2 separate regions of the Homo sapiens genome follow, and region 1 is linked to region 2. The links come from fine-mapping of genetic effects on gene expression. A gene starts in region 2. The other region holds a variant in brackets. All regions are shown on one strand. Distances are from middle to middle. Region 1 holds the start of GLIPR1L2 (GLIPR1 like 2). Region 2 holds the start of CAPS2 (calcyphosine 2).

Region 1 (5,389 bases), 60 kb after region 2:
GAAACCTGCACAAAGATGTTTATAACAACTGTATTCACATTTGCAAATTGATATGGTTTGGCTCTGTGTCCCCACCCAAATCTTACCCTGAATTGTAATAATCCCCACGTGTCATGGGAGAGACTAGGTGAGAGGTAACTGAATCATGGGGGCAGGTTTTTCCCGTGCTGTTCTCATGGTAATGATTATGTCTCATGAGATCTGATGGTTTTATAAAGAGTAGTTCCCCTGCACATGGTCTCTTGGCTGCCACCATGTAAGATGTCCCTTTGCTCCTCCTTCGTCTTCCACTATGATTGCGAGGGCTCCCAGCCATGTGGAACTGTGAGTTCATCAAACCTCTTTCCTTTATAAATTACCCAGTCTTGGGTCTGTCTTTATTAGTGGCATGAGAATAGAATAATACACCAATACCTAGAATCAGCCAACATGTCCTTCAGTAGCTACTGGAATAAAGAAATGTTGGTACATCCAGAAAATGAAAAATTATTCAGTGCTAAAAAGAAATTAGGTATCAAGCCACGAAAAGACATGGAAGAAATTTACACACATATTACTAAGTGAAAGAAGCCAATCTGAAAAGACTACATACTGTATGACTCCAACTATATGACATTCTGGAAAAAGCAAAACTATGAAGACAGTAAAAAAAAATTAGTAGTTGCCGGGGTTAGGAGGCAGGGAGAGATGAATAGTCTGAGCACCAGGGATTTTTAGGCAGCAAAACGACTCTATATGGTACTAAATGCTGGAAACATGTCATTATACATTTATACCAACCCATGAAATGTGCAACACCAAGAATGAGCCCTAATATACACTATGAACTCTGGGTGGGAATAATGGATAAATGTAGGTTCATCAGTTGTAAATGTACTACTCTGTTGTGGGATGTTGATAATGAGGGAGTTTATGTATGTGTGGGGACAGGAGTTACATGAGAAATCTCTGTACCTTCCTCTCAGTTTTGTTGTGAACCTAAAACTGCTATTAAAAAAGAGTCTATTTTTAGAAAAGGAATTGGTAAAAAAAACAAAACAAAACAAAAAAAACACAGAAGTAGCTCTACCACTCCCTGGCTGGGTGGCCTCAGGCAATTTGATTTCTCTTTTTCTCAGTTGTTTTTCCATCTGTTAAAGGGATAATAACTATTTCTTAAGATTTGTGTGACTTGAGTGAGTTGATATTGTCCAAGCATTTTAAATAGTGCCTGACACATTAAATATTTGTGAAATAGATTAAAAATAGTATTCACCACTCTGTATTGTAACTGTTTGATGATTCATCTGTGTCACCTTTAATTAAAAGCTCCCTGTGGATAGACTCCATGTCTAGCTTGTTCAGCATTTGAGCCTTTAGCTGGGCTGTGACACACAGGAAGTACCAAGGAAATATTTATTGAATGAGATGTCTAGCAGTGGAATGGGCTTCCCTGTTGGTCTAATTATTTAAGAAAAGGATGTGATGATCACCTGTCAGTGATGTTCCGGAGAGTATACCTAACACAGGAGGCTAGCAATAGTGGCTAAAATTTCTTCCAAATCTAAGATTGCATTATTCTATTTATACTTTTTCTTTAGCATTTTTTGCAGTCTAACAACAGTACCACCATAATAAAAGAATTGCATCTTTCAGCACTTGCCACCTTCACCCTTAAATAGGTTCTAGCCATACTAAAATACTTCTAGCGTTTAGGATCTTCCTCTCCTTAGGCACATTACATGCTTTTCCCTTTGTTTAGAATGCTATCTTAGACTTGTCTGTTTCACTTTCTGTATACAATTTCCAGAAAGGCTTCCCTGCTCCTCCACAAGAGTACCAAGCAATAGAATTTTGGCTTTGTATTTATCACGTTTTAAATACTGCCTGATTGCTAATTCACTAAATTGTAAGCTGCTTGAAAGCTGGATCTGTGTCTTGTCTACTGATCTTTCTCAATCACTTAAAACTTACTACTATGCAGTCATAGTAGTAAGTATTCAAGGGCATAAATGAAACCATCTTACATAGGTCTATTGTTTTTCAATTGTGTGCATCACAGACAATTTTTAAAAGCACTTTTCTTTTTATAAATGTTTGGCTAACCTGTTACAATGTTTTGTAGTAAAATTCTCTCCCAATGTCAATTTTCCATATCTGCTTAATGCTATTAAGCACAATATGTAATATGCAAACGTGTATTCCAAAACTAATACTTGCTTTTTTTCCATGCTTAGAATTTAAAGTCTTCAAAGCAAGTTGGTTTTGTTTTGTTTTGTTTTTGAGGAAAATGTTTGGAGGTAAACAGATCAGACCAAAATCAGCTAGATATTAGCCAATTTTGTCTGGAACAAAAAAAGAAAACAAAAGAGTTCGTTCTTACTGTGAATGCCACAATTAGTGAAAAAGATGAATCTTGATATTCCGGGCTGTCTGAATTGTGCTGATGAGAGAAGAAGTAGAAATGTTTTAACCTTTGAAGAGTTTGGTGATCCCTACTCTCCCTTCACTCCCATTTATTTTGTGGTTTCCCACAAAGGTTCATTTAAAAACTGAAAAAAATCTCATCAATTAAGTTGGCCTTAAGAACTTCTTTGGCCTTAAGAACTAGCAATATTTCTGTATTCCATTCTGTCCCTGAGGAAAATAAAAGGCAGGCCCTGCACCAAATTTCCAACTCAACAGGTAATGGGGAAAAAAAATTTAATTGAATTTGTATCTGTATCGCAGAAAAATCATTTCACCTGGCACAATTAGAAGGTTCCTCAGACCTGTTACTCAGCAATTGGCATTTACCATACAAACTGATGACTCATTAATAACGACATATCATTCAGTGTCAGAAATCAATTCGGGATAACATTTCACTACATTAGTTTAGTGAAAAGGGCTTACTCACGTAACACAAGTCTTTCTTTAGTTTGTCAGACATCTATTACCAGCTTTCTTCACTCTGCAGGTCTAGCTTTCCCCTCCTCTCCCCCTCCCCTACCCACTCTCCCCTCCCTCTTCTCTCCTCCCTCCTCCTTACCCCCTCCTCCCTCCTTTGTTTTT[C/T]CCTCCTCCCTCCTCCCTTTCTCCTTCCGGGAGGCGGGACAAGGCTTGCTTGCGTCCTCCGTAGATTGGCAGGTCACTGGGACGGCCAGCGCGTGCGCACTGGCCTGTCAGCGGCCGGTGGACCATGGAGGCCGCAAGGCCCTTCGCCCGGGAGTGGAGGGCCCAGTCCCTACCCCTGGCAGTAGGGGGCGTTTTGAAGCTGCGGCTCTGTGAGCTGTGGCTACTGCTACTGGGTTCTAGTTTGAACGCCAGATTTTTGCCAGACGAGGAGGACGTAGACTTTATCAACGAGTACGTGAACCTCCACAATGAGCTGCGGGGCGACGTCATTCCCCGAGGGTCTAACTTGCGCTTCATGGTGAGGCCGGAAGGCGGTTTGCCGACCCTTCCACTACCGTTGCCACAACGCCTCCCTGGATCTCGGGTAGTTGGGGCCACTGCTCTGAGGCTGAAGGATCGCGGAGAACCGCACTTTTAGCTTGGTTTTTAAAGTACACGTGAAGTTTACACAGAGAAAAACTGCGGACACTCTAACACATGCTTATTACCATGATATTACACAGGGCCAGGACTAAGGTGATGGAGGCACTGGCCTGAAGTGCAGATTTTAAGGGGGCGCCAATTCAAGAAAATGATATTTTAATGCAACGGGTTTTTAAAAATTAAAAATCAGTGCAAAAATATCAATATCAAGGGTAAAGAAAATGTTAAAAAATTTAACAAAGACAGGTTCCTTGGGTCTGGATTAGGGAAAAACAAGTGCGACACTCTCAGGGTGGTGCAAATCAAGATGAGATTCTGTTTGTATTTGAAATTTTTATTTTTAGCTTTTTCCATCATCGATGTCACATTAGCTTTGCCTTTTAAAAATGTTTGTTATCTTGATTTTTTTTTTTTGTGCCCATTCCAAATTTGGCTCCTAAGGAAGTGTCTCAGTTTCCTCACCCTAGTCTTGACCCTGATTTTGCCTTACCTTACAATGCGGTTCTTGCTTTCCCCCTCTTTTACACCCTATAGTCATTTAACAACTCAACTATTCCCTGGTTGCTATTGAGTTTTCCTGACTGTCATTAAAATGACTGAAAATCCGGCAAATAAATAACTGTCCTCTTAGGGAATTAGAAGCTTCAAACTTATAAATTATATTGCAAGGACTACTTTCCTAGACATGTCTTTTCTTCCTTCAGCATTAGTTCTTAGCACAAATTTCAGAAATGGGATAAATAAATTAAGGGTATGATATTTTTTATTAATTTAACACATAGCAATTGCTATGCTAAAGGGTAGTGCCAAATTTAGCAAATACCAGCTGTTCTGTTTTCACCACATCCTCACTGATTTGGACATGTTCAATTACTTGCTAAATGAATAAATTACAAAAATGGTCATTTGTTTTAATGTTGATTTTAAAATACTATTTTGATAGGACATACTTGAGTTCTTTCTTCGTCATTTCCTTTACCTTTTATATTGTCAGCATTTCCATGTCAGATTATATGCTGTCTTATAGAACTATGCTAGCATTTGGTTCTATCTGCTGAAGATACTTTTTTCTAAGCCAATTCTTTTTCTTTTGAATTCAATTATAGAGTTTGGGGATATTTGGGAGTTTCAACTAATTTCCCATTTTTTGTGACTAATTCTGTTTCTTCCCAATTTGAAGATTATCCTTACTCCTGAAAATTAATAAACACATAATACTTTCTAATACAACTTTTCATAGGTTTTCTATCTCATCTCTAAAAATTATATAGTATTTCAAACATAAGGTATATAAAATAATATACCTGTATACCCACAATCGATATTTTTAAATATAGACATTTTTAAAGGAATAGTATTTGATATATAGGTTAAAGTCCCACCCTAAATTTTTACCTTTTTCTTCTTTCTTGAAGTTAATGTATATTTTTCCCATGTATTTTATTAGGACATAAATATTAACTGTAAATAGTATAGTCTATCATAATAGTATGGCCTATTTAAAATGTTTCTTTAGCAGATTTGGACATCACTCAGCTTATTTAAACTCTTTTATTGGTTATTTTTAGTATTTTAATGTATGTACTTTTTATAAATTCCAAAAGTTAATACCTGTAAACTCCACCCAAATATTAATAAGATCTTAGAACACAAATTCTGAATACTTTCCATCCTTATTCATGCTATTGCCGTGTAGTACTTTTGTTCTACCTTGCTTTTAAATACCAAAAAAATTGTTGTTTTTAAAAAATTGTATTACAATATACAGGACATAACATTTACCATTTTAACCATTTTTAAGTGTATAGTTCAGTGGCATTAAGTACATTTGCATTGTTGTGCACCCATTACCACCACCTATCTCCAAAATTTT
Region 2 (5,389 bases):
TAATCACACAAATTATTGTATTCGCGATGATGATTTCTGGCTAACAAACCCAAGTTGAGATAAGGACGCTGAACAATCAGCAAAGTGATTTTCTCCACACATCAGTCTCTCAATTATTTATATCCTAGTAACATTTATAGCTATTTCAAATCACTATAGGTCATTTCAAATCAGTATAATTTATTTGCAAATTTAAAAAGCGGCAACATGTAAATCCTCAAATGTCCAGGTCCTCCCAGTTCCTGTACTTCCCCAGTCAGGACAGTCTTCACTCTTCACTGTCATTAGATTTTCTTTCCCCTAATAAACAGTCAAGACCAAGAAGGTTGGCGTCTCCCACCCTTAACAAAGCATGGGTAGTAAATATTTTGTTAATAAGTAAATTAATGTATAGCAAAATACATGTATACATTTTACACATATTCTTAGATTCCTTTCTCTGCATCTAACTGTAACATAATCACAATGCCAACATACAAATTCTGTCTTCAATTAGATAAGATGTTTAAAGCATTGCATTATAGCTATTAGTCTTTAATGCTAGACTGTAAGCCTCATATTTGCTCACCCTATGTCTCAGGATTTAGAAAGCCCACAATGTAGTAGGAACTTAACAAATGTTTGTTAAATAAGTGAAGTCAGTCAATTCGGAATGACAAAACACAAAAGTGGTTAACTTAGATATAGTAAGAGTATTCAAAGGGCAATGCCGTCATACATGGAACACTTTCGGATCTATGGAATTAGAGCAGTCAGGCAACTGACACCCTATGTAGATAATTTTAAGATTTTGACAGGGCTTCAAAGACAAAAACAGCTCAACCTTCTGATCTTCAAACCGAGCCAGCTGAGATCCAGAAAAGTGAACTGTACTTCGCTAAATGTTTGCCAGTTATTGCAGACCCGAATTCACACGTGGGTTTCAGATCTCTTTTCAGTACTACATCCTCACTGGTAAAGGTAATAGAAGAATTCGAGGGGAATGAGCTGTAGGGACTAAAAAATTAGAAACCTAAACTTGGTGGCACAAGAATCAGCAAACAACTGGCTGTGAGTGAATCTTTGAAACCTATGCCAAGGGTTGTCTTTGTCATTAAGCACTGAATATCCAGCTGGGCTATGTTGGAGATAGGGAGTAGCAAAAGGAAGGGAAAGCACTTCTAAATGGCTTCTGTCCCCACTTAAATGGCTGCATGTCATGAGATGATATTGCTAGCATATAATAAATACTGTTGGCTAATGTCTTTAGTGCTACCAAAAATAACTGAACACACTTCCCATTTCCCTCATTTTTTTTTAAGGATGACTATTTCCACTTCCAATTATTATCACTTCTCTCGGTAGTAATATTACTGGCTATTATGTTACTTATATCAAATCAGAAAAAAATGAAAAGCAAAAAATAAACTGATTTAATTCAGCCCATAAATAAGAAAAAAAGAAAGAGATGTAAATACAATTTAGTATTTAAGCTACATGAAGGTAGGGACCAAGTCTATGTTGATCCCAGACGACTACAGACCCAGATATCTGAATTGAAACTTAGGTCATTCCTAATTTCAAGCAAAACAGGGTAATATCTCCTTTCACCCCATCACTCCCCCTGCTCCCAAATTATATTATAATTCAGAGCACCTGCAGTGTAGCAGAAGGAATTCCCCATCCCCTACCTAACTGGGATTCCTGGACAGGACAGGCGAGGGGCACAAGAGACAGTCAGCCTGATTTCACCTAACAAGCTCGGTAAGAAGAGGTCCAGAGTTAGAAGAGTTGGAAAAGGTATAAACTAGCGCGATTCCTCCAAAAACCGCATTCAGAAAGCTTTAGACAGGACAGTCTAGACAGTCCAGGCCCGCGTCTGCAGGTTGCCCGGCAACAGGCGCCGCAGCGCAGGGCTTCTGATTACACTCTGACCTCCAGGGACGAAAAGGTCGTCGGCCCAAGTCCCTTGTTCGTTCTACGCCACCTCCCGCCCCCGCCAATCTGCCTCCTCAGTTCCGCTGCCTGGCTGACCGGAACTGAGCTTGTGGCCGGAGACCCCGCCACGCTCTCAGAAGTACTTGCTGGCTGGAAAACCCAAAGGGGTGAAACCTCAGCTACAGCCGCCGCAGCCTCCCAGGGAACCGGCTCCGCGGCGCCCCTAAACCCCGGCGAGGAGCCGGAGCGGACTCACTCACCCGCGCTTCTCCTGAGCAGGGAAAGGGCCAAAGCCCGGCCCGGATCCACGGCGGTTGTTGTGTAATTCTTTGTCTAATTGAATTCTGTTTAACATATTTCATAAGGCACCTGTCTGTGCACAGAGCCCAGAATGACGTTTTGAGGAGAAGAAATTTAAGCATATGCTACAATATCTGCTCTCAAGGAGCTTGCACTTATTTTTTTTAAAGACTGTAATATATTATATAGAGATACATAGATATTAGACATGGATATTACTTTAAATTTGTGTGACTATGTACATATAGATGATTACATGAATAATTGCATATATATGTATGTGTATTTGTGTGTGTATATATAATTAAAATTTAAAATGATGTGTGGAAAGGGCAAAGGCCTAGAAATCAAGAAACCTGCATTTTATTCTTTGCCTTTTTTTTTTTTTGAGACGGAGTTTCCTTCTTGTTGCCCAGGCTGGAGTGCAATGGCACAATCTCGACTCACTGCAACCTCTGCCTCCCAGGTTCAAGCGATTCTCCTGCCCCAGCCTCCCAAGTAGTTGGGATTACATGCGCCCACCACCACGCCCGGTTAATATTTTGTATCTTTATATAGAGGGGGTTTCACCATGTTGGGCAGGCTGGTCTCGAACTCCTGACCTCAGGTGATACCCTGCCTCAGACTCCCAGAGTGCTGTGATTTACAGGCATGAGCCACCATGCCCGGCCTAAATATTTTTATGTATGCTCTGTACACAATATCTTGGCATCAACTCCTCATCTATAAAGGGAAAAAGCTGGTTTGAGATAATTCCAAGGATCCACTCCACTCTAATATGCACTAACTTTCCTAAATTACACAGCCAAGAGTCAGATATTCAAATTAGAAGTAAGAGTTTATGAAAGTTAATCCAGTTCTTTCATAATCATGTTTTTCTAATCTGCAGTAACTTTTCAAAATTAGCTCCCCTCAGAATGTATGTATCAAAACGTGAATATTTCCAGTATTTCCTGGTGCAAATTTGGGAGTAAAAATACAAATAAATTTTTAAAGTATAAAAATAGTGAAGGAAATGAGGTATAATGTAATCACTCTGTATTTTTCTGCTGCACTCCATAAAATTCATCTATCCATTACCCCCACATAGAAAGAAAAGCAAAAATAAATAGCAGAAAACACACATAAAAATAAAACAGAAAGCTAAATTTAACTTTTTTTTTTTTTTGAGACGGAGTCTCGCTCTGTCGCCCAGGCTGGAGTGCAGTGGCGGGATCTCGGCTCACTGCAAGCTCCGCCTCCCGGGTTCACGCCATTCTCCTGCCTCAGCCTCCCAAGTAGCTGGGACTACAGGCGCCCGCCACTACGCCCGGCTAATTTTTTGTATTTTTAGTAGAGACAGGGTTTCACCGTTTTAGCCGGGATGGTCTCGATCTCCTGACCTCGTGATCCGCCCCCCTCGGCCTCCCAAAGTGCTGGGATTACAGGCGTGAGCCACCGCGCCCGGCCTAAATTTAACTTTTAAAAAGTTATAAAAGAACTTAAAAATTCTGGTGCACCAACTAACCTTGGCCATTCCAGAAATAGATGTTCAAGAAAATAACATTAGGACATGCACTTGTTGATTCCTGGCAATTAGACTTTTTACACCTAAATTGTTTTAGTATTTCTGAATATAGCTGTCTAAGCCATTGGGAACATGATCTAAAAAACATAATGTATACAATTCAGACATTTTATTAAAAACGTCTCTTAGAAGAGCAATAATCTTGGATTATGTTTGACTATATATACTCTACTTTTGCCAATCTTTAAATTCATTACTCTATGAAATTTCTGTTGTTGTTACAGGCAGTTAATTTCTCTATACACTAAATGAAACTAAATTAGCTATCTGTTAACCTTTATCCCTATTAACCTTATCCCTATCAACCTTTACTGTTTTGCAGTTCCAAAAGAGTTTGCATTTGAAGCTCAACTTTAAATTTTCATTTACTTGATCATTCATTAATGCAGCCAACATTCACTGAGTACCTACTACTTGAAAATATTTTACTTTATCTTTGTATTTATTTGTTCATTCAGCCACTTATGTATTTGACAAACATCCACTGAACACCTTCTATCTTCAAATATACCCAGTGTTAGAAAAAGTGAAATATATAAGCTTACCCAGCATTTCCTTTTATGTGATTAAGTCAAAAATATTTATTGAGCCCCTCATATGTATATATACATATATATAACAATTAAAATATAGTTTCTGCTCTCAAGAAGCTTACAGTTGTATACAACATTATTAGAAAGTTAAAGAGAACTCATTTATTTATTCGACCAATTTTTATTGAGAGCCTAAAGATTCAGTTCCTGTTCAAGGTGCTAGAGATGTAGCAATGAAGAAAACAAAGCTACTGTTGTGGTGAAGGCTACAATCTGATAGAGAAGGCAGATGTTAAAAAAATAAATAACATAAATTCAGGAGGTAATTAATGCAATGAAGAAAAATAAAACAGGTTAAATGGATAGGCACTGACAGACAGGGGATATAGAATGATCAGGGAAGACTTCACTGAAGGGAACTCTATAAAGAGCACTGCAGGCAAAAGTAACAGCAAGTGCAAAGATGCTGAGGAGAGAGCATCCTTATCAAGCTGATGGATGTGGCTGATGCAGAATAAGCCAGGAGAGAATGCCAGAGAACTAGCCATGGTCAGATTATGTAGTGTCTTTTGGGCCATACCTAGGACTTCAGATTTTTTATTGTAGCCCCCCACTGTAATGTGAGCCAATTCCTTAAAAGTTCTCTTTCTCTTTGTATACAAACATATGTATATGTATATATGCCTATAGACATCTGTATCTCTCTCTGTGTAGATGTATATATGTCTATAGGCAGACACACACACATATATGTGTATACAAACAGATTTATACATAGAGAGAACTTTACATATATAAATGTATGTGTGTATATGTATGTGTGTATATGCCTATAGATATCTTTATATCCAGGAAGAGACATATATATATAGACACATGTAGATGTATATAACTGTATTGATTTATCTATCTGTATACCTACACACACACATATACACACACACACACACGTATATATGTTCATGTCTTTGGGTGTGGGATATCAGAAGCTCAGTTTGGACTATGTATGTGATATGAAAGTAGTATATACAGCAATTCTCCATTAGCTGGTAGTAGACTAGAAATATATTAT

Evidence for each region.
Region 1: its variant is fine-mapped to the expression of CAPS2 in blood mononuclear cells (TOPMed, PIP 0.99).

The regions. Positions count from the first base shown.
Region 1 is chr12:75,387,960-75,393,348 of GRCh38, forward strand. It overlaps GLIPR1L2 (GLIPR1 like 2), which reads left to right and starts at 3,130. Exons shown (of 6, transcript NM_001270396.2): 1 at 3,130-3,391. The coding sequence starts at 3,158. It also overlaps a transcript of CAPS2 not described here. RefSeq lists a silencer at 2,932-3,104 and an enhancer at 3,062-3,191. The variant C/T (reference allele first, on the strand shown) is at 3,034.
Region 2 is chr12:75,328,197-75,333,585 of GRCh38, forward strand. It overlaps CAPS2 (calcyphosine 2), which reads right to left and starts at 2,128. Exons shown (of 17, transcript NM_001355024.4): 1 at 1,671-2,128. RefSeq lists an enhancer at 2,035-2,084.